Homo sapiens: one gene and its partner. The protein of the gene in region 2 purifies or fractionates together with the protein of the main gene of each other region. This does not show direct contact. Each region holds a gene or a part of one and is shown on either strand. Other genes may lie near its edges.

Region 1 (12,519 bases), on a different chromosome or scaffold from region 2:
TAACGCATTCTCATTCAAAAACTAAGTTTCTCACTAGAGATCCATTTTGTTAAAAATATTTTTACCTAGACTTACAGACTCTGAAAGCTAGAAGGCATTTGAGAGGTGAAGGCCATAAGCCTCCACGTAGTCTAAGATATTAGGTGCACTTCTTTCCCAAGATCATATTGCCAAGTGGTGGAAGAGCTAGAACAAGAACCTGGAATATCTTGGCTGATGGACTCTTGGGTCATTGCTTTTTATTTTCCTGTGATCTCTGTAAAAAGCAAGTAACACTTTTGTCTCTTTTCTTGGAAGATAGAAGCAGAGAGTGCTTTGGAGTCTCTGGAGAAAATATTCCCTAAGTTGGTGATTTTTAGGGATATTTTTCTGTTTACTTCCATATTCCTAGTCTCTAGAAGAGTGCCTAACACAGAGAAGGGGCTTAATAAATATTTGTGGAATTAATTGATAGAATTTACTCATGAGTTTCCTAGACTCTCTTGGAACAACTTCTGAAGTAAGCAAGTTTCGTTTATTCATTCATACATTTGTGAATGGTTGCATGTATTTATTCAGGATCAGTTTTGCTCCAGATACTATGGTGGGTATTTGTTAATTTAATTTATAATGTAAGTGTTTGTTGGACATCTACTCTTTTAAACAAGATACGAGGAGCTGAGGATACAACGGCGAGAAGAAACAGATATAATTCTTGCTCTTTGAGACTTACAATCAGAGGAAGATACCAATGTTGATCAGATAACCATAGAAACAAATGGATAGGCACAAAATATGTAAGCATTATGGTGATTTGAGAGAGACCAGCAAGGGGACTTGATCTGTTCTGGGAATCGAGGGAACATTTCCTAGTGAAAACTTAAGGATGAATACTTTTAAAATGTAACATGGGAAGATGAAAAGCTTATTTTCTCCTCCCTTTTCTCTCCTCTATCACTTTTGAAGATAAACTGATTTAATATATAGTTTGTAAAATGAGAGACAATGTAACTTCAAGACATTATTTTTCTGCTCTTTCTCCTCCTCTTCTTCATTATCCTATAATTCTCAATGAGGGCTCTTTAGTGAGAAACACTGTTTGGGGCAAGCATAGATGATATCCAAAGTATTTAATAACCAATATGACGTGGGCCTTGACCAATCAGAAAGGGTGTTAGCCATAAACAAACTAGTTGAGCGGTTCTGGTGTGTACTGGTTGCATGTAGGCTCTGATGACCAGACATCAGTTTTCCACATAAGTGGGTTCAGGTTGACCCTAAAGTTTATCCAAGGCTTGGTATACGGAAGAATAAGGATCATAAAGTATACACGTCCCTTGAAAGTGGCACAAAAAAAGCGATTTCTTAACCTGATGGTGTTGTCTCACTATGGCTACCCTTGCTCTTCAGCTCAGCAACCACTGAAAGAGCCCCAGGAACAGCTGATGTAAAGCTCTTTCCTTTCTGACCAACAGAGATTTTCCCGTAGGAGCAGTATCCGGGACAAGGCCTGAGGATTTAGTTGGGGGTTGGCTAAGTACAGAAGATACAACAGGGTGGGGAGTATGTGGAGTGGGAGTAGGAAGGGGGAAATTGGGAACCCTTATCTGCAAACATTTATTAACTGCTAATTATGTGTCAGATGCTGTGTTAGGGACACAGGGATAAACAGGACATCGTTGCAGCCCTGAGGAGCTCACAGCCTAGAAAATAAGACAGATGTGGTCACAAGTGAAAGACAATACAACACGATGAGTGCTAAATGGTAAAAGCAATAGAAATAAGCCATTGGGGTAGCGGGTCAGAAAGAGGCTAATGCTGCCTTTGGTGGTAAGAGTCATAGTTTGCCAAAATTTAAGAACATTAATTCTTCCCAGATAAACTGTTTTTCTGGGCTGACGGGTTCTAGGAGAGGGGTATTTGGAGTGTCCCAGCGTGAATCCCTGGATGGTCCAGGCATGGGCATGTGATCTATGCAGTTGCACAGAACCCTGAATTCAAAAGGACCCTGAACTGGACTTAAGGCTGCGTTGCCACCTTTAAATTCTACATACTATTTAAACAAGGGGCCCTCCATTTTCGTTTTGCACTGGGCCTCGCAAATTATCTAGCCAGTCCTGGTCTCAGATCTCCCACGTCTCAAGTCTTTTTTGAAGTCAGGCCCTAGTGCTTAATTGCCACACCACTCTGTGGATTGAGATTAGGTGTGAGGAGAGAGACAGAACATAGATTCCACAGACTCGTAATTTTGCTGGGTTCTCTCACTAAACCCCAGGAAGTATGTAGGTAGATTGTTAAGGCTGAGACCTTCTTAATATTAGGGCCGTTGAGCAGCCACAGTGGTTGGTGTGTGGTGCAGTTTTAAAAGTATGTCTCATCTCCTGTAGCAAGTCATTCAGGAAGTGTTGGTGGGGTATCAAAGAGCAATCAGGCAGTGGGGGTGGTGGGTAGGCAAAGCTGGGGGAAGCTGTTATTTGTGCTGCTGGTGTTGTTGGCAAGAATACTTTGCTTGCTGGAAAAGGCAAAGGGGTTGCACATGTTTAAGATGAAGATTCTGCCACCTTCAAACACTCCAACTGTGCTCTGAGAGAAGCAGCTGCAAAACCATTGCATGCAGTGGAAAGATAGGGAGGCAGAAGGTGTAGGTGCAAGTACTTCTACTTATGAACTGGACAACCTTAACGAGGTCACAAAACCTTTCTTATTTATTTATTTATTTTTAGACAAAGTCTCACTCTCTCACTGTCACCCACGCTGGAGTGCAGTGGAGTGATCTTGGCTCACTGCAACCTCCACCTCCCGGGTTCAGGCAGTTCTCCTGCCTCAGCCACCCAAGTAGCTGGGATTACAGGTGCATGCCATCACGGCTAGCTAGTTTTTGTATTTTTAGTAGAGACGGGGTTTCACCATGTTGGCCAGGCTGATCTTGAACTCCTGACCTCAAATGCTCTGCCCGCCTCAGCCTCCCAAAATGCTGGGATTACAGGTCACAAAACCTTTCTGAACCTCAGTTTCTTCATCCATAGAATGAAAATAATAATTATGCTATTTGTCCTGTTTGGTGAGCAGCAAATGATGTAATATGAGTAGAAATGCTTTGCTGATCATCAAGGTAAAATAAATGTTAGTTATTTCTGGAGTTGATACTGATATATTAACATTCATCGTATGTTCTTTATCATCACTTCAACAATTGGTACATGCCCTTTGGGCCTGCCCTAGGCCACCCTTATGATGGCGTTGGTGATGCCGGGGCCATACTGGAGCATATATCAAAAGCCATTTTTAAGGGCTAATTCAAGTAAAGCCTGGAGGGACAGTTTCAGGTACCCTGGATAGACTTTATTCTGCTCTTAAAAGATTTTAAGATTTAAAAGAAAGAGTGTCCATATCAATCAATCCCAATATTTATTTTTCTGGGTGCTAAAGGGACTCTAACATTATGTTATCACTGGAAGTGACCTTAGTAAAATCTAATTTCAGAGATAACTTGTGGCACAAAAACATCTTGAGGACTTACCATGAAATGCACTATGCTAGTCTATGGCAAAGACAGATTCTCTGCCTTTCGGGGGGAATTTGATACCCGGTTAGGGAAATAAGATACACACACACACACACACACACACGCACGCACGCACGCACGCACACACACAATTCTCCTTTGCAATATGAGATAGTGAATAATAAATTCAAGTGAATGGTAGAAACAGTGATTACGGTAGGAATTCTAAGAAGGGAGGGATTGCTGAGCTGTAGTGGTTAGAAAAAACATCTCAAAGAAAGTAGAATTTGAGGAGGATTTTGAAGGCTGAATAGAATTCTACTTGATGGAAAGGGAAAGGAGGGGTGTCTCAAGTCCTCGGATCCTGAACAAAAGTTTAGAAGCAGAACCTGTGATGTTAATTGGATGAATATAGATTTGCATATCAGAGTGGGGAGAGGTACAGCTGGAGATACAAATTAGGTTTAGATTTGAGACAGCCTTGAGTTTGAGGTCTCCATCAGAGGCAGAGGGGAACTATTAAGGTTTTTGCGAGTGAAGATTAAAATAATGTTTTAGTCATTGTAATGTAGTAATGATGTGTGGGGAGGAAAACAGGAAGGAGAGGCTGCATCAGAGAGGCCATTTAGGGATACTGTAGTCTTCTGGGCATGAACCAGGGGACGATAATGGGAATGGAAAGGAAGGGCTGGATTTGATGATAACACAAAGAAAGGCAAGAAATAAAGAGGCATCTGCTAGAATTCAATTGTTCATCAATATATTTTGAGTTTCTACTTTATGTCATTGAAAAACTCATAAAGTTTATGATGGAAAGAAGTCAAAGGGGGAAGAAAGTTTAGTGTTAGAAATATTAAACTTCAGATGATGGTGGACCATGTAAGTAAGCTCTTGGAATGATGGAAGATAAGGAGAGAGAATGGACTTGAAGTATTATTTGGGGCACTGTGGCAGAATCTGCTAGCTGTTTTCCAATATTTGTTCCCTCCTTCATTCTTATTAATAGAATCACTAATTTTTAGCAGGGCATAGAGCCACCCAGAGTAAAGACTATATTGTCCTGCTTTCTTCTAGCTAACGTTGGTCATATGACTAAGTTCAGCCCAACAGAATAAAAATGGAAGTGTTGTATATGACTTCTGTGTCTTTAAGAAGAGTGGGAACCTGGCATGGTGGCTCACATCTGTAATCCCAACACTTTGGGAGGCCAAGGCAGGTGGATCGCTTGAGTCCAGGAGTGCGAGACCAGCCTGGGTAACATGGCAAAACCCTGTCTCTACAAAAAAGTACAAAATATACCTGGGCATGATGGTGCACACCTGTAGTCCCAGCTGCCCAGGAGGCTGAGATGAGAGGATCACCTGAGCCCAAGGGGGTCAAGGTTGCAGTAAGCCAAGACCACACCACTGCACTCCAGCCTGGGTGACAGAGTGAGACCCTGTCTCAGAAGAAAACCAATAAATAAATAAATACATAAAAAGAGGGAAATTTGCTGTTTTCATCTCTTCCTTGCTTTTGCAGGCCAGAAGGTCATGACAGCTGGATCTTAGACAGACATTCTGAGTCATGAGGAGGAAGCCAAGTTCTGAGGATGGTGGAGCAGGAAGATAGAAGTTGGAACCCCAATGACCTTGTGAACTATTCTACTGACTGTGAACTGCCAACTCCGCACTTTTTTACATGAGCAAGAAATAAACCTCTTTCTTGTTTAAGCCATTCTTATTTTAGTGTCTCTGGTACTTACTGTAACACTGAAATCCAGCGGGTTTAGAGATCATCCACAGAAATGGCGTGGGTGAAGGAGAGGAGGGTCATTCAGGAAGAGTAAGCCTGAAGTCCACGACTGAGCCCTGCGAGAGTGCTCACATTTATAGAAGAGACACCATCAAAAGAAACAGAAGAGACCAAGCAGTAAGAGTGCAAGAGAGGCACCAATAGTGGGCCATATCACAGAGAGGAGAAAGAGTCTCAAGGAGGAGATTGCCACTGATGTCTAATGATTCAGCGTTCAACGGGATAAAGACTGAAAATGGCCCTGGGTTTGCCCGTTACGAGGTTATTGATGGCCTTTGAGAATGTAGTACAAGTAAGACAACTCGATGGAAGGCCAGAGTCTAGGGGACTGACAGAGTAGGTGGTAAAGCATGGAGGAAAAACTTGACAGTGAAAGAAGGGTGATGAGATAGGACAGTAGCTAGAAGGTCAGGTGAAACTAATTTATTTTTGTTTTAAAATAGAAGAGACTGGGGGCTGGGGGGGAGGAGCTAGGGAGGGTAAGCAGAGAGAGATGTCCCCAGTGGGCCTGCTCTAGGTTAGATGCTCCTGCTCATGGCCTCTCTGGAACTCCAGGTTTCCCTCTCATAGCACTTGCCACATTGTGTGGTGGTCATCAATCTGCGTGTCTGTGTTCTGGACACTGTGAATGACTGAGTCCAGGGGCCTTGCCTTAAACCTCTGGTATGCAGAACAGCACAAGATACACAGGCTACTAATGCTTGTCATGGAACAAAAGATGGAAAGGAAAGGGCAGGCAGTGGAAGCTGTAGATTTAAGGAGGGTCACACCCTCACCTGAAGTGGAAAGGGGAAAGGAAAGGATAAGTGAAAGAGCAAAGGTATTTTGAGATGTTATTAAAGACGGTGATAGGAAGAGGCTGCTTGGTGAAGTAGAGTGAGCATAGATTTGAGCCAGGTGGGCTTGTGCTCATGTTCAATCCCTGACATTTGCTGAGGCCCTGATCTTACTTGACTACAAGATGGGCTATAATAATGCCTGCCTTATAGAATTGTTTTGAGGACACATAGAAGGTGCTTAATACACAGTGGACATTTTGGAATAGATAGGATAAAATGGAAGATAGTCATTCTTGGTGGCCTTCATCTCTTCAGTAATGTAGGAGGGGAGACTAACTGGCAACAGTGAGGAGGCAAGAGTGGGACCAGCTAGGAGGTATACAGACTAAAGGTGCAGATTTTGAATCTAGGAATATTTGAACGTAGCTGTGTTATCTTGAGAAAATTATTGAAATTCACTGTTCCTCAGGTGCCTCATCTGTAAAGTGTGGATAATTATTAAATGCAATTGCGAAGATAAAGCACTTAGCACAATGCCTGGCACATATAAATGGTAGTTGCTATTATTTTGGTGAATGTAAAAATTGGGGGGGGGAATGTTACTATAAGGAACACCATAGGGAGTCAACAAGAGATTGATGAAGGGGATCAAGTGTTTGCTAACTACCCTTGAGAGCCCAGTGAAGAAGTGGTAACCCACATTTACAACCTTTTCCAAAGAGTGTGATTTCGTGACCTTCTTATGCCAGAACACAAATGGGAAAGGTAGGAGAAAGGCCATACCTCTAGAGGAGAAGCAAAGGCAAGAAAAGGCTGAAACCCTGGGGTGCAGGCTTAGATGGAAAAACCTGTTCACTGTGACTCTTAGGTAGCTATGGCAAAGAGGGAGCCCAGGACTCAGGGAGCAGGATGACCAGTGTTGAAAGAGATCACTGAGGACTGGTTGCTCACTGGAGGTTGCCTTCCCCTCCTGGATTGGGCTGGGGCACCCTTCCCAATGCAATACACCTTTCTGTGTCTAAGATGATAACCCTGTTTCCCTGGATGATCCTAGGGATATGGATGGATTTTACAAATGTACATTTCATGGTTAGGCAGCTCAAAGCCACTGACTAGAAGAAGACAATAGGGATCGTGAGAAAAAGAAGAATATTTGAAAAAACAAAAAACAAATAGAAAAGAATCAGAAACCCATATATATAGATTGTATAAAGATTGTTGAGGTATGAGGCTTTTAACTCATGAGAGGAAAATTCTTCAAGGCTGGGCAAGCAAAACTTACTGATGTTTTGGGTGGAATCCAAAGTCAAATATGGATGACAATGGAGAGGTTATATAGACCTAAAACCCCATAATTCTCCTTAGATTCTATTAAAAATGAACACAGTGTACCCTTGGAGTCTGGGGAGCTCTCTATTCTCCTTTCATAATCTTAACCATCACTACTAGGCTCTGCCTGATCTTCCCCTACTTCCCTACTCCAACCACATCAGCTCCCTCTGTTCTGTAAACAGGCCAAGGGCACTTTGCCTTAGAGCTTTTGCACCTGTTGTTCTCCTCTTTTCCTACCACACTCTTTTCAGCAGTCCCCCACTTTGTTCAGGGTTTTCTCCCAACATCATCTCATTAGAAAGAGCTTTCCTGGTCACTGTGCCTAAAACAGCAATCCCCACCCCATCCTTCTCTCTTGCCTTGCCTTACTATCCTTCTCTTCACTGCAGTTATCACCACTAAAGCATTGCCTGTGCTTATTTATTGATTGTCTCCCAACCCATCCCCTCAATACACTGCTACTATAATGCAATTATCAAGAATGTGAGTCTTTGTCTGTTTCAATCACTACTGTTCCTCCAAGAACTAGTGGATGATTATTAAATGTTTGTTGAAAAAATGAACACCAGCCTGGGAAACACAATGAGATCCCATCTCTATGAAAAAGAAAATAAAAAAAAATTAGTCAGGCATGGTAATGCATGCCTGTAGTCTCAGCTACTTGGGAGGCTGAGACAGGAGGATCACTTGAGCCTGGGAAGTCAAGGCTGCCATGAACCACGATTGTGCTACTGCCCTCCAGCCTGGGTGACAGGGCAAGACTCTGTCTCAAAACAAAAAACAAAAACAAACAAAAAAAAACAAAGCTTTTTTTTTTTTTGCAACTGACTCAATTAATCTTTTCCAACAATAGAAAAACAAGGCAGAAAATCTCAGCAAGAGAAAGAGTGAAGGCAAGAGAGGACTCTTTACTGATCTCTGGGTCTTGATGTGAAAGGTCAAGTATTTAAACTGATTATTAACAAGAATCAGATGGCTAACTGCAATTTCTTTCTATATTCTATACTGTTTGTGAAGAAAATTTTTTAGATCCACAAAATGGGGACCCACAGCATAGTTAGTAAAAGTGTCCTGAATCAGGGATTAGGAAACATGTTTGAGTCTAGGGTCTGTTGTTGACTAGCTAAATGACCATGAATGTCACTTACTTGCTAAGTCAGAGGGTTCTAGTTGGTAAAAGAAATAAAACAGAGCTGTCCTGCCACTTTGAGGAATTATTAGGATTAAATGACATGAGGGTGCTCTCAAGTGTGTGTACTAATGGAGGAGAGTCTAGTGGTCCTAAGGAGAGCCTTGCCTTGTGGAATCACCTGTATGTCACCATGGGTTAGTCACTGAGGCCTAGCCTGCCTGGGCTAGAATCCTGGCTCTGTCAGGGACTGGCCATGAACCCCAGGGAAAGTCAGTAACCTCTCTGTGCCTCAGTTTCCTCAGCTTTAAAATGAAGGTAATATTAGCACATTGGTGAAGGTAATAGTAGCACAATATTTGACCTCATAAAAATATTATGAGGGTTAAATGAATTGATATTTGTAGACCTCTTAGAATAGTGCCTGGCATATACTAGGCACTATATATGTTTGCTATGTAAAACAAATAAACATCTTCAAAGAGACTAAAATAACACCTCAGACAACTACGAAGGGAAAAATTAGAGTTGGGGTATTGGGGAGATGTTAAAGTCAGCAAGTAGCTATTAATAAGAGTGGAAATGGGGAAGACTGCACAGTTGCTTAACAGACACCTCCACCCCCTTACTTTCTTAGGATCCTCCAGACAAACATTTCTTGTTCTTTTTTTGTGGCACTAGCTAAACTTCCTCTCCTCTTCTCCACCCACTGCCTCCTAGAGTCAAAAAGTGGGGGTGGAACATCGCTGAGTATTGTAGGTCTGGGAGAGTGACCAGAGGTAGCTTTAGCATGTGGTGCCCAAAAGAGAGTCCATTATAACTGCTCACACTGAGTGAAGGGACATAGAGGGGAAGAGGAAGCACAGGGCTGGGCAGGCAGAAATTTTGTGTCATTCTCCAAAGCGACGGAAAGTCCTTGATCATGAGGTTTTAAGAAAAAGGAACCTACTACCCCCATGCAATAGTACATTGTTTTCCCCTGGGAGTTTTACTTTATATCACCTTTATTGGGATTTAGGTTTACTTGAATCAGTTCCTTCAAAACACACACACACACACACACACACACACACAAAATCTCAAAACAGACATGAGATCATAGCCATCCGTTTTAACATTGCTGCCCTCTATTAGCGTGTACTTGAACACTGAGTATAACAAAGGAAACAAGAGTACCTAGTCAGTTCCACCTATATCAGCCCCCAGCTGATTGCTCATACCTCTTTCCAAGTTTCACATAGATGAGCCCAGTGATCTCCAAACTTACAGGTCCATCCCTTTCCTAAGGTCCAAGACAAGAAAGGTTTGATTTAGGAATACTCCAGTAGCCTGAATGGCTTGGCACCGACCATCAGGCTCCTGTTGCGAAGGTGCTCTGGCTGCCTTGTTGGCCTCCATATTGATCTCCAGGACTGCTTCAAGCACTTGGAGCTGACAAGGTAGGCCTCCGCTGCCTTCCACTGAAGGCCTGAGTTATCACAGGGGGAACAGCTTTCCACCCTCTGTTTGGAAGCTGGGTTTTTGATAAGCAGTTTTACCCATATGTAATATATTTCCATTTCTATAACTGGATTTCTGCTTTTGAGCCCTTTTCTGAATGTCTGTGGTAGTCATCTGCTTAAATCTCATTCTAATACAGAGGCCTTGTCCTTATCTTGAAGACCCCTCAATGCAAGGACTTCAGATCAGTGGCAGGTTGTTTTGTCAGCATACTTCCACAGGTATGCTTCCTGTCTCTGAGCCCCAGGATGATGGTTGGGGTCCAGTTACCCATAGTGAGCCCACTCATTTCTTAGAATTTTAGGTCTCAACTGCTGAAATGCCCATGACCATGTTTAACATCCAACAAGACATCAACATCATGCTGATATTGGACTTTTATTTGTTTAAAGAAACTAATTCAAATCACATTTGAATAATATTAAAGTGAACGGTATTTGAAATATGTCTGGAGATGGTTGTTTGCTTGGGTATTCTGCCTCACTGCCCTGCCTAAACTTCCGTTATTGGCAAGGACCTGCCAACAGCTCCTTCCTCCTCTGTGGGTGGGTATAGAGAAAGGCACAGATTCTATCCGAATAATCCTGTCTTGACAGAAATAAATAAATCATCACTCTTTACTGACATATTCCCAAACATTAATAGTAGGGAGAGTAATTTACTCCACTTCAGCATCAATGTGGGTGGAGGCAGCATGACTCAGAGGTGAAGTCTAAGGACTCTGAAGCTTAAATTCTACTTCTTTCACTTTTTGGTTAAGTGGCCTTTGACTCTCTGTGTATCAATGCTTTCATCTGTATATGTGCACATAAACCGTATCTATCTCATAGTGTATTGTAAGGATTAAACAAAATAATAACTGTAGACTACTTAGAGTAATGCTGAATATGCAGTGATTGCTCCATAAATGGTTACTTATTACTATTATTGATGGGAGATAAGACAGGGAGTTGAAGAAATAGAAATACGAATGGGGCAGAGAAAAGGAAGAATTAAGAGTATGAGACAGTATATGTAGAGGGGGTGGGCAAGGATTAAAACTGGTGGACTCCTTCATCTCCTACCCTCAGAGTGGGAGTGTCTCCCAGGGTATGTGGAGAGACAGTCAGAGTCATGGTGTTTCCAAAGTCATGATCAGAAAGTTGGCATCAGAGCATAAGACTGTGAATTTTGACTCAGAGAAAACTTTTCCAACATGGAACAGTCATAAGTTTGCACACTCAGACTTTCCTTATGTCGGTGATTTCTGAGGGGAAATGGGGATTTCTCCCTGCATCTCTCCACTGCTTCTCAGCCTCTTCAACTGCTCTGAATTCCAGGGAAATGTGTAAAGTGTAGACTCCTAAGCCCAATACTGAATGTAAGGGACTACCTCTACCAGGAACAGCAGCAGGAGGAATTCATGGTATATTTTTGTGCTCAGAAAAGGTTTGCAGAATAATCCTTAAGAGGCAAACAGATAATTCAGTAAAGGTGGACAGTATGTAAAAAGTACTCCTGGCTTCACTTTTATAAAAACAAGCTCCCATTCCCCTTTCATGGATCCTTGATGAAATGAATATCTCACTCCTAGTTTCCTTTTCCAGAACCCAGACAACCAACACCTAAGCTCAAACTCCCACCACCTTTTCTCCTGTTTATGTTCCTTGGACAATTCCCTGACAGAGGAGTCCTGCCCAGGATCTCTGTGTGGTAAAGCCATGGCTCTTCCTAATAATGAATGAAAAGCGAGTGTGAAAAATAGTAGCATTAGCTGATATCTGTTAAACACTTACTATATTCAGGTACCATGGCAAGTGTTGTACATGCATTATCATCATTTTGATTCTCAAAACAATTCTACTGTATTAATACCTCCCCATTTTGAAGCTGAAACAAGAGTCAGAGGAGGAATGTAACTTCGTCTAGGTCACAAAACTTGTAAACAATTCACTACTAGCTGATTTGACAACTTTATTTCAGTTTCAGTAGATGAAAGAAGTGTATCCTAGAGCTACCTTTTATCTTAGCAGGTATTAACCTTTTGAAGAGCATCAAAAATTTGAAAGCAATGAGTGAAGAGGTCAGGTGGAGCAGAAAGAAGAACCAATGGGATTGGGATTAACCTTGGAATTAGAAAAACCAATGTCTATTTCCAGCTCTACCAATTTAGGTAGTGAAATTTCAGGTGAATTTTTAAACCCCTAAATCTTAATTTATTATTTTTCTTGCATAATGGGATTAATAACGTCTATCTTGCTCATCTCAATGGTTTTCATATGGATGACATAAGAATGTAGGCATAAACATTGTAGAATGTTTTGCAAATTAAGTGGTATCAAATGCTACCTTGTCTGGTCTCTCTCTGGAAGATTAGGGACATCCCTAGTACCATTCCTCATCTACTTGCATTTTCTGTCTGCCATTCTAGAGCGACCAGCAGAGGCTCCAAAAATTTGGTCTGACTAGTGGTTACAATCTCCATGAAGTTCAAATTAAAGGAGCCATAGCTTGAAATGGCC
Region 2 (12,519 bases):
TTATTTTATAGATGGGGAAACTGAGACTTTGAGATGTTAAGTAACCAAAATCAGTCTAGAGATTAAGAAGCAAAAATGGGATTTGAATCAGGCCCATTTGATTCTAGATCCCCAGTTCCTGATCCCCACACTGTACTGGATATAGATTATTTGTTATATTTTAGTATATATAGTAATCCTACTTAATTTGCCTAATAAAATTTTACCTCATAAAACAGTAAGGTAAACTTTATAATGAATTGTTTCAGTTTTTGAATGTGAATCAAAATCAATTGTGAATCAATTGAATGTGAATCTAAATCATTCATTTCATAAATTTTCTGATTGCTATTCTTGGGCACAAGTTTGGGTCAATAGAGATCTTTTGGTTAGGACACATGCTTTTTTTTTTTTTTTTTTTTTTTTAATGGTGTCTTGCTCTGTCACCCAGGCTGGAGTACAGTAGGGTGATCATAGCTTACTGCAGCCTTGCCCTCCTGCCTTAGCCTCCTGAGTAGCTGCCACTACAGTTGCACACTGCTGTGCCTAGCTAATTTTTTTTTTTTTTTTTTTTTTTTTTTAGTTTTTGCAGAGACAGGGTCTTGCTCTGTTGACCACGACGGTCTTGAACTCCTGGCCTCAAGCTATCCTCCCACCTAGGCCTCCCAAAGTAGTAGGATTACAGGTGTGAGCCACCACACCTAGCCAGGACATGCACTGAACTCTGGTTAAAATCAATGTGTTTACAAGCAGAGTGTCATGCTTGACTTGATGATCACATTTACCATTAACCTCCTTTGGAAATAAAAGTATTTAAATATGTGAATTAAATTAGGCTCACGCCTGTAATCCCAGCACTTTGGGTGGCTGAGGTGGGCAGATCACCTGAGGTCAGGAGTTCGAGACTAGCCTGGCCAACATGGTGAAACCCCATTTCTACTAAAAATACAAAAATTAGCCTAGCGTGGTGGTGGGCACCTGTAATCCCAGCTACTCGGGAGGCTGGAGCAGGAGAATCACTTGAACCTAGGAGGTAGAGGTTACGGTGCGCTGAGATCGCACCATTGCACTCCAGCCTGGGCGACAAGAGTGAGACTCCATCTAAAAAAAAAAATTACTATATCTTTCATCAATATGCATCAGAACTGATTACCTAAAGGGCCAAAACAAATCTGAAACACACTATTCAGATTTACTTGATTCGTGACACTGAACAAAAGGTCAATTTAACTACTGATGTGGATTATATGATGTTTTATTTTTTACGAAGGATTGCCAGAATATTTAGATCATATATAAAATAGCTTGATATATGCCTATATATAATATGCTGAATAAATATACAATATTACAATGTTAAAGTCTTTTGTCTTTTTAAACACTTGAAATCTACCTCAAAGCCCACTAACTTCAGCAAGTACTCTATGGGGAACAAGGCAAGAGCTTTGATTTCCATTTTTCACCATGGGAACTCAACATAAGCCTTTAAGTGATTTTCTTAAAGCCACATAGCAAAATGGAGATGGAAGCAGTGAAACAGCATAGGTTCTTAGTTCCATTTTCCCTATGAGAAATGATTAATGGCAATAATTCAGTATCATAAGGGTGATGTGGAGATTCATTATTTAAAATCTCAGCAACAAGATAAGCAGAATGGTAAGCAACAAGTTTTCCACTTTCTAAAACAGTGGGTCTCTAAAAAATACAATGACTCTATCTCCCTACTATCATTCAGACGCATTTAGTCAAAGTAAATGAGTCTGTTTTGAGAATTGTTTCCTAACGAATCTGATCTTATCTCACTTTCAGTTAAGTAGCAGGAACCTGAGTACCACTTCAAAACTTCGTACCTCCTTCAGTCTCTGAACAACCTGGTGTGAATGGTACATAAAACTTCTCATGATTAACTCATCTAATATTAACAATTTCCTTCTCCCCACAACCCCTCCAATTTCTGAATGAGCAAAATTGTTTCACCCCTCAAATAGGCCAGCAGTTTATATCTTTCACTTTCAAGTTACTGAAGTAACTGACCAAGGATCCCCTGTAGTCAACTCTTACTATAATATGTCATACAAGGAAGAGATCTAAAACAGTGCAACTCAAATTGCATTCCCAGGACAACAGCATCAACATCACCTGGGAGCTTGTTAGAAATGTAGACTTCCAGGCCCCACCCAGACCTGTTAAATCAGAATCTGGATTTTAGTAAGATGCCCAGGTGATTTGTATGAACATTAAAGTTACAGAAGGACTGATTAAAATGTAAAGCGAATGCCCACATCTCATTGGGAATATTGATGGCAACTTCCCTGTTGTCAACCTGGCTTCTTCCACCTGCCCAGGGCAGTTCTGTGCCACCTCCTCCGTAGTCATTCAGTCTATGCTTTAAGAATGCAATTTTATTTTAGTATAAGCTGAAGGTTTGTCAATCATTTCAGTCTTCACAGGACAGTGTTTCTGAACCATTTTTTCCTTTCTTCCCCAATAATATTTCTTAGTTTTATTTTCTATAGCTTCTATTATAAACCAGTAATTTTGTAACATAAAATTAAACTAAAATATTGAATATGCCTTTTCAAACAAAACATACTCTGTCCCTGTCCATGGAAAATCGCTATTCAAACTGGCAAGTTATATAACGAGACCTATAAAACCATACATATTTTTGACTGCATAACCTTGCTTATCTTCATACACTCCAAGGAAACAAGTCAAGAGGAAAACGCAATTTGACAAAGATTTTCATACTAGCCCTATTTTAATAGTGAAAAAAATGGAACTAACCTAAGCACCCCTAAATAAGGAATAATTGCTCAAAATAAGGGAATTGTTTTTGGGTATAACCCCAAAAGCACAGACATCAAAAGCAGAAATAGATAAATGGGATTACAACAAACTAAAAAGCTTCTGAACAGCAAAGGAAACAACAGAGTGAAGAGACAACCTACAGAATGGGAGAATATATTTGCAAACCATACATATGATAAGGAGTTAATATCCAAAATATATAAGAGACTCAAATTACTCAATAGAAAGAAAACAAATAATCCCATTTAAAAATGGGCAAAGGCAGCTACTCGGGAGTCTGAGGCAGGAGAATGGCATGAACCTGGGAGGTGGAGTTTGCAGCGAGCCAAGATCGCGCCACTGCACTCCAGCCTGGGCGACAGACCGAGACACCATTGCAAAAAAAATAAAATAAAATAAAAATGGGCAAAGGACCAGAATAGACATTTCTCAAAAGAAAATATACAAATGACCAACAGGTATGTGAAAAAATGCTCAACCTCACTAATCATCAGAAAAATGCAAATGAAACCACAATGAGATATCATTTCACACCTGTTAGGATGGTTATTATCAAAAACAAGACAACAAGAGAGGATGCAGAGAGAAGGGAACCCTTGCACACTGTTGGTGGGAATATAAATTAGTACAGCCATTATAAAAAACGGTATGAAAGTTCTTCAAAAAATTAAAGATAGAACCACCATATGATCCAGCAATCCCACTGCTGGGTATATATCAAAAGGAAATGAAATCATCATGTCAAGGAGAAATCTGCACTTTCATGTATATTGCAGCATTATTCACAATAGCCAAGACATAATGCAATCAACCTACATGTCTATCAACAGATGAATGGATAAAGAAAATATGTTGTATATACACAATGGAATACTATTCAGCCTTAAACACAAAGGAAATCTTGTCATTTGCAACAACATGGATGAATATGGAGGACAGTTTGTAAAGTGAAATAAGCTATGCGCAGAGAAACAAATACCGCGTAGTTTCAGTTATACATGGGATCTTAAAAAGTTGAACTAATACAAGCCAAGAGTAGAATGGTGGGTGGCTACCAGGGGCTCGTAGGGGCGTGCAGGGTGGGGATTGGGAAATTTGGGTCAAAGGATAAAAGATTTAGGTTAGGAGGAAAAAGTTCAAGAGATCTATTGTACAACGTGGCAACTATAGTTAAAAACAATGTATTGTATTCTTGAAAGTTGCTAAGAGAGTAGATTTTAAGTGTTCTCATCACAAAATGTAAGTATGTGAGGTAATGCATATGCTAATTATCCCAATTTAGCTATTACACATGTATACATATTTCAAAGCATCATGTCATACACAATACATATATACAATTTTGCCAGTTTAGAAATAAATATATAAATTAGGGAAAAATAAAGGAATTATAGCAGAAACAATGGTTCAAAATTACACTTTCTATGTCAAAGGTGAAGGTTTACAATGTTAATGCTGGCTGGGCACGATGGCTCACGCCTGTAATCCCAGCACTCTGGGAGGCTGAAGTGGGTGGATCACAAGGTCAGGAGTTCGAGACCAGCCTGGCCAACATGGTGAAACCCTGTCTCTACTAAAAATACAAAACAAACAAACAAAAAACTGCTGGGTGTGGTGGCACGCACCTGTAATCCCAGCCACACAGGAGGCTGAGGCAGGAGAATCGCTTGAGCCTGGAAGGCAGGGGTTGCAGTGAGCTGAGATCACACCACTGCACTCCAGGCTGGGCGACAGAGAGAGACTCCGTCTCAAAAAATATAAATAAATAAATAAACAAATAAAATCTTATGCCAAAATTCAAAAATGTTAGAGTCTTAGGTTTTCCAGAAAACTTTAAGTATGTGGACTATGTTGACATAAAATGATAGCATGTGTAATAGCAAAGACTTGGAACCAACCCAAATGTCCATCAATGATAGACTGGATTAAGAAAATGTGGCACATATACACCATGGAATACTATGCAGCCATAAAAAAGGATGAGTTCATGTCCTTTGTAGGGACATGGATGAAGCTGGAAACGATCATTCTCAGCAAACTATCGCAAGGACAGAAAACCAAACACTGCATGTTCTCACTCATAGGTGGGAATTGAACAATTAGAACACTTGGACACAGGAAGGGGAACATCACACACTGGGGCCTGTCCTGGGGTGGGGGGAGGGATAGCATTAGGAGATATACCTAATGTAAATGATGAGTTAATGGGTGCAGCACACCAACATGGCACATGTATACATATGTAACAAACCTGCACGTTGTGCACATGTACCCTAGAACTTAAAGTATTAAAAAAAACACACACAAAACAAAAAATAAAAATAAAAAAATAAAATGACAGTATGTGTAAAAAGTGGGCACAAGGGGATGCCACTCTGATTACAACTATTCAAAACTGTCTGTCCCTGTGTGTATATAAACTAGAAGTAAATTTAAACTAACGTAAATGCATTCTTGCATGTTATTTTTTCATGTAGTTATTTAAGTGACTAATTTTTTAAGAAAAACAAGCAGAATTACAATTTGGAGCCTTACAAACCTAGCCTAAGCAAATCACAACTCATAAAAATGTAATTCATTTTTTTAAATTGTTACATCCCCTTCAGGATTATATTTCCTCTGACTCCCTCCCTTAATACAGACAAACCAGCAATGTAGTGTACTTTTAACTTCCTTCCCTCATTAAAGCTTTTTTGGACTTTTTGATAATCCTAGAGTTTAAAATGTATCACCAAAAAAATCAGAACATGAATAATTGTTAAAGAACGGTGGAGTTTTATCATTGCCTTTAATTTATTTTAATTACTATAAAGCATGTGTTAATCTAGTCTCTGCTGATATTGAAATTTGTCTTTATTTCATCAAAAGTTGTCCCTAACTGTAAAAAAGTGTCCAGGTTAGAAATGGACAAGAAGCAAGAAGCAACCAACCTGACTTATTTCTTATTTTCTCAGTGGGTCAGTGTTGGGGACAGATCCTGGTTTAGAACTGACAAATCCACATCAATTCCTTTTTTATACCACGTCAAGTACTACACAAAAGAAAACATTTAGCTACATCTGACTTCTTCATGACATTTCAAATAAAGCAAGCCAGTACCTATGCCCTCTACGTCTATACGAACTAATGCTACATACAAAATTCAAGACACAACTATAATGATTTTTAACAAACGTTTCAGAACTTTTATATCCAGAGGAATAGTATCCTACACAAAGCCATTATTTTTGAGACTATACTCTGATTCAAGAGCTTTCCAAACTTACAATGGCCCAAACTTTATTCTTTCAGAGAGAATTTTAATTTTTGAAACAGTTGAAAGTCATTCAACTTCAAGTGTGATGGTAAAACTATGTGATATTTTGATGAGTCATGAAAATAAATATAACCACTTCTTCCCCTGAACTTCCATATCAAGTTTTATTTACGTATACTTATGATGTTCTAACTTTGTATTACAATTATTTATAGAGCTTTTATTCATATTAAAAAACACATATTACATGTTAACTTTACAAATATTAACTCATGTCATAATCATCATAACAACCCTGTGAGGTAAGTACTCTCATTATCACCATCTGCCGTTTTACAGGTAAGAAACCTGAGACACAGAAAGTTAAAGTAACCTGCCCAAGGGAAAATAGCTAGTTAAGGGTCAGAGCTGGGATGCACACCCAGAGATCTGGCTGGAAGATCTGGGCTCTTAACCACCATTCTGTGCTGCCCCTCTCTTATACTAGAGGGAATGTATTAACAAATTGGTCTTTAAGACAATTCCAAAAGCACAATTCTCAAAAAGGGAGGGAATCTGCTTGGACATGGAGCTAGAACTGTCCACTGAGAGAAGGAGGGCAGTGGAGGGAGCTGAAGGGAAGAGGCCAGGTGGGGAGAGCCCGAAAGAGATCAACCCAGACTCCCCCTTTGCTTAAGCTAAATGACATCTTCAGGCTAATCTTGCAACTTTAATTTTACATTGTCAACCAGAGTCAGTACTTGGCTTATTTGCCGTGAATTATCCATTCGGTGGTTTATATGTGGCAAACAATCCTAGGCTGGCTTTCAGGCTCACTTTACCACTGGATTGTATTCAGGAAATTGAAAATAATGTTGGTGGCCTAAGTTATCATGAAGATAAATGTGGCACCAAGGCACATATCCAATTGAATTCAAAAACTAAATGCAAGTTGTAATTTCTCACTAAATGAAGTTAAGTTATAATTTCAAGTTCTTTGCCACACTGTTCCCCTTTATTGCAACTGATAAACTGGAATTTTATTTCATCACTGCTCCTCCCCCATTTCTCCAGTTCAGTTGTTTGACAGGCACTTTATTCCCAGTTGTCCCTTTAAAACTTAAAGGACAAAAAGATAATTATGCATTTATCTAAAGACATACATGTCAAATGACTTCATTATGTGTCCTTGAAGCTAAAGAATTATAACAGCATTTCTTCTTCCAAATCTTCCATCAGATAAGTAGCAAACAAAGGCAGATATGTCCAGAAGGATGCCAACTATGGAAATAAACTATTTTTTGAGCTAATTATTTTAAATATTTTAAATTAGTTCTCGTCTTATCACCATCAATCCCACTGGGCAGTCAGAACTTTCCCAATGGCTGTCTACATTGAGGGTGAGAAGGGAAGAAATGTGAGAGAACATATGTACCTCAGTGAAAAGAAACTTGATGTATCTAAAAAAAACAAAGGGAATAAACTTAAAAAAAAAACTATCTGCATTAATAAGAGCATTCAGTACACTGGATAAATACAAGAACAGAACATAAAATCAGTAGCTTTCCTATGAAACAGAAAATATAGTGGAAACAGATCCCATTTATGATTTTTAAAAATCAGCATACACATTCATACACACAATAACTCGAAATAACAAAAAATGTATAAGACATACAAAAAGAAAACTATAAAACTTGATTGATGGATATAAACAAAAAAATTATAAATGGAGAGACTTATGTTATGGGAAGGGAAGACTAAATTATTTAAAGATGACAATTCATTCTTAGTTTATTAATAAATTTAATGTAACCCCAATGGTGTTTTCAAAAAAATTTTTGATACATAATAATTGTACATATTCATGGGGTACAGTGTGATGTTTCAACACATGTATGCATTGTAATAATCAAATCAGGGGATTTGAATATTTAGGATATTTATCACCTCAAACATTTATCATTTCTATATGTAAGAACATTTCAAGTACTCTCTTCTAGCTATTTCAAAATACATAAGATATTGTTAACTATAGTCACCGTACTGTGCGACTGAACACTAGAACCTATTTCTTCTATCTAACTGTCTGTTTGTACCCATTAGCCAACCTCTCTTCATCGCCTTCCACCCTTCCCAACCTCTGGTAACTATCATTTTACTCTCTATCTCCATATGATTGAGGAATCCCACTACAGGGTATCTATCAAAAGGAAAGGAAATCAATATATCAAAGGGATACTTGCGCCCATACATTTATCACAGTACTATTTACAGTAGCCAAGATATAGAAGAGTCCAGCAACAGATGAATGGATAAAGAAAATGTGCTATGCATATACAATTGAATACTATCTGGCCATTAAAAAGAATGAAATCCTGTTATTTGCAGAAATGTAAATAGAACTGGAAGTCATTATGTGAAGTGAAATAAGCCAGGCACAGAAAGACAAATATCATGTGTTCTCACTGGCATGTGAGAGCTAAAACATTTGGTCCAATGAATTTTTTTTAACTTAATAAAATGATTCTAGATTTCATTTTGAAGAACCAACAGATAAGAATAGCAAATAATTTTTAAAATATATTAAAACATTATCATACTATAGTGCTATCAGTGCAAGAATAAATGGATCAATTGAGACAAATAGATAGTCCAGAAACAGTAACTGTTATATATAAGAATTTAATATATGGTAAAGTCGGCTAGCAAATCAATGAAGAATGGAAGTTGTATTTATAAATTATATTAGGACAATTGCTAGCTATCTGGAAACAAAATCAAATTAGATCTTTTATCCACATCAAAATACAACTCCAAATGGAATTAAAGAGGTAAATGTAAACTAACAAAACCGTAATTTAAAACAAAAACTGCAGTGAAGTTTTATGACATATCTCAAGGGGAAAGGACTTTCTAGCCAAGGAAGAAATCAAACACAAAGAAAACGAGTGACGTATTTGACTACTAAAAAGTTTGATTTTTGTATGTGTCAAAAAAAGTAAGGGCAAACACCAAACTTAGAAAACATACCTTGCAACAGATCAAGGATTAGTATATATATAAATTTACAATGTGTTAAAAAAGTTTGATTTTTGTATGTGTCAAAAAAGTAAGGGCAAACACCAAACTTCGAAAGGATACCTTGCAATAGATCAAGGATTAGTGCACATATATATATATACACATAGAGTGTGTTTAAAAAAAGTATGATTCAACTGGTTAAATGAGAAAAATACACAAAAAGCCAAATCATGGGAGGAAATACAACAGCTTAACAACCATATAAAATGACAGTCACTAACCAAAGGAATATAAAATGTGGAAAATAAAGAGATAGAGTGTAAATATAAAATAAAGAATAACAGGCCAAATGTCAAGGGAAAATTTTCTTAACTACAATACCCACTTCTAGTGAGGGTGTGGTGAAATGGACACTGATGCATTACAGGTGAGCATGTAAATTGGAATAACCATTTAGGGAAAATATCTCATGATCATGTATATATCAAGAATCCTAAGCTGTTTATGTTTTCTGACCTAGAAATTCCACACTGGAAATTCATTCTAAGGAAATAATCATAAATGCAAGGAAACTTTAATGTACTGAAATATACATCCTGATGGAATTTATAATAACAAAAATATGGAATGAGTCAAATGTCTAAAAGTAGGTGACTGGCTAAGCAAAATATGGTATACTTACTAGCTAGCTGGACTACCATGCAGCCATTAAAAATAACATCTTAAAGTTGTCTCTAAGAACATTACATATGAGTGTATTTTTTTCATATTAAGTGGGAAATGGGAAACGTATACAATTGTAAGAATACAAGAACACAATCATATTTTTAACACATGTAAATTTATATATAAATATATATAAATATATATTTATAATAATATATATAAAAATATATATTTATAATAATATATATAAAATATATATATTTATAATAATATATAAAAATATACATATTTATAATATATATATAATATATTATATCTTATATACAATATATAATATATTATATCTTATATACAATATATAATATATCTTATATACAATATATAATATATTATATCTTATATACAATATATAATATATTATATCTTATATACAATATATAATATATTATATCTTATATACAATATATAATATATTATATCTTATATACAATATATAATATATTATATCTTATATACAATATATAATATATTATATCTTATATACAATATATAATATATTATATCTTATATACAATATATAATATATTATCTTATATACAATATATAATATATTATATCTTATATACAATATATAATATATTATATCTTATATACAATATATAATATATTATCTTATATACAATATATAATATATTCTATATTATACTATATAATATAGTATATAATATACTATATATAATATAGTATATATTATATATTATATATAGTATATAATATATATTTATATATTATATATAGTATATAATATATATTTATATATTATATATAGTATATAATATATATTTATATATTATATATAGTATATAATATATATTTATATATTATATATAGTATATAATATATATTTATATATTATATATTATATAATATTATATATAATATATATTTATATATTATATATTATATAATATTATATATAATATATATTTATATATTATATATTATATAATATTATATATAATATATATTTATATATTATATATTATATAATATTATATAATATATATTTATATATTATATATTTTATATTATATATTTATATATTATATATATTAGATATTTATATATATATAAATATATAACATTTGGTGTTTGCCCTTACTTTTTTTGACGCATACAAAAATCAAACTTTTTAGTAGTCAAATACGTCACTCGTAAGAATACAATTGTAAGAGCACACGTGCTCAAAAAGCAATTCATCTTATTAAAATATAGAAGAAAATTCACCTAATTTTTAGCAATAGTCATCTTTAGGTTATAAAACTATAGATGATTTTTCTCTAATTTCTATTATCTATATGTTTCAAATTTTCTATAATGAATAGGTATAAGGAACTATTTTTAATAGACTTATACAAAAATCTATATTTATTTAGAGAAAGTAATTGAAAGAAATACTTATTACTTAAAATGAAGGTGAGCAATCCTATAAATGGAAAACTCCTTTAGTGCTTTATGAAGCAGTTCAATTTTCGATTTTCTAAATCAGAACAGAAGAAAAGGCCATATCTGAAAGCCATGATTAGGAGGTTCAGAACTGGGGAAAAGGGCAAGCATCGTTTGAAAGTACAGTTTAAAGTACAGTTTGAAGGCATATGAAATGTATTATCTCTACAATAAAAATATAAAAACTATAGCTCAATTAAATCTTCTTGGTTAATAGGAGTAAACAAAAGATAGAATGAGAAACCATTCTGAGTAAACCCTACAATCAATGCATGTTTGTCAGCTATACCTTGTTGTCCATGTGTATATGATACCACTTATATTGTTATTTCGACTGCATATCATAAGTGTTCTGGTTTAAAATGAGTACGTGGTTTATTTCTAAATAAAATCTGATTTTATAATTACAGTGTAGCACCAAAAAGAGGGAATGAAATTTTTACATTTATCAAAAGGGACACTCAACTCAAAAACATTGAGAAACTGATAAAAGGCAATGTATCCTCATATCTTCCCTCTGCAGCACATTCTGGCTATCACCCTAACAGTCACATAAGACTTTGAGGCCCCAGTGTACCATTTGAAAGACACCGTAAGGGAACTCCCAATTTGTCTAGTATTTTCCGCTACTTCACAAGGAGGTTTTCATGGAGAACTAAGAGTCATAAAAACTGCATTTATGCAAGATTCACTTTGGGCGAAAACTTAAATGCTTGATAATTTCTCACCTGCCTAAGTTAATTCCTCATGTGGTTCCGGCCTACATAGGCAAAAGTCTAAAGCTGCCCTTCTCTCTTGCATAAGGTACTTAAGGCAATCTTTTGCAGAAGGTAGGATACACATTACTATTCCTGTTTTATAAATATGGAAACTGAGTCCCAGAGAATTTGAGTGACTTTCCCAGAGTCCATACCCTAACCTCTCAATGGCCATTCCGTTTATTGCAGTAAAGAACAGAATTTGCCTTGACAGTTTGTTAATTCAAAAATATCTGCTGAGTGCCTATTATGTGTTCCTGTGTTTCTGGTGATGGAGACAGTATCTCCGCCCTCATGGAGATTATATTTTTGCAGGACAGCCCAGCAATAAGTAGGTAAACAAGCAAATTATCAGATAGTTTAAAGCTCTTTGAAGAAAAATAAAGAGATGGAGTGAGTGTATCAGGGACAGGGAGAGGGCACTTGTTCTAGATAGGTGGTCAAGCAAGTCCTCTCTGAGGGAGGAGACAGTTGAACAAACATGTGAACTGAAGGTATTTTGGGCAGAAGGAACAATAAGCGCAGAAATCCTAAGTGGGG

What was found.
Region 1: the proteins of SH2D1A (region 2) and CD84 purify together in Homo sapiens (affinity purification with western blotting; 4 studies listed by BioGRID and IntAct, with this or other methods). This does not show direct contact.

What each region holds. Positions count from the first base shown.
Region 1 is NC_000001.11:160,565,934-160,578,452, forward strand, and holds part of CD84 (SLAM family member 5 isoform 2 precursor), read right to left. Parts: intron 5,201-12,519; exon of another isoform or gene 5,006-5,200; intron 1-5,005. UniProt on the Homo sapiens protein: Self-ligand receptor of the signaling lymphocytic activation molecule (SLAM) family.
Region 2 is NC_000023.11:124,348,487-124,361,005, reverse strand, and holds part of SH2D1A (SH2 domain-containing protein 1A), read right to left. Parts: intron 1-12,519.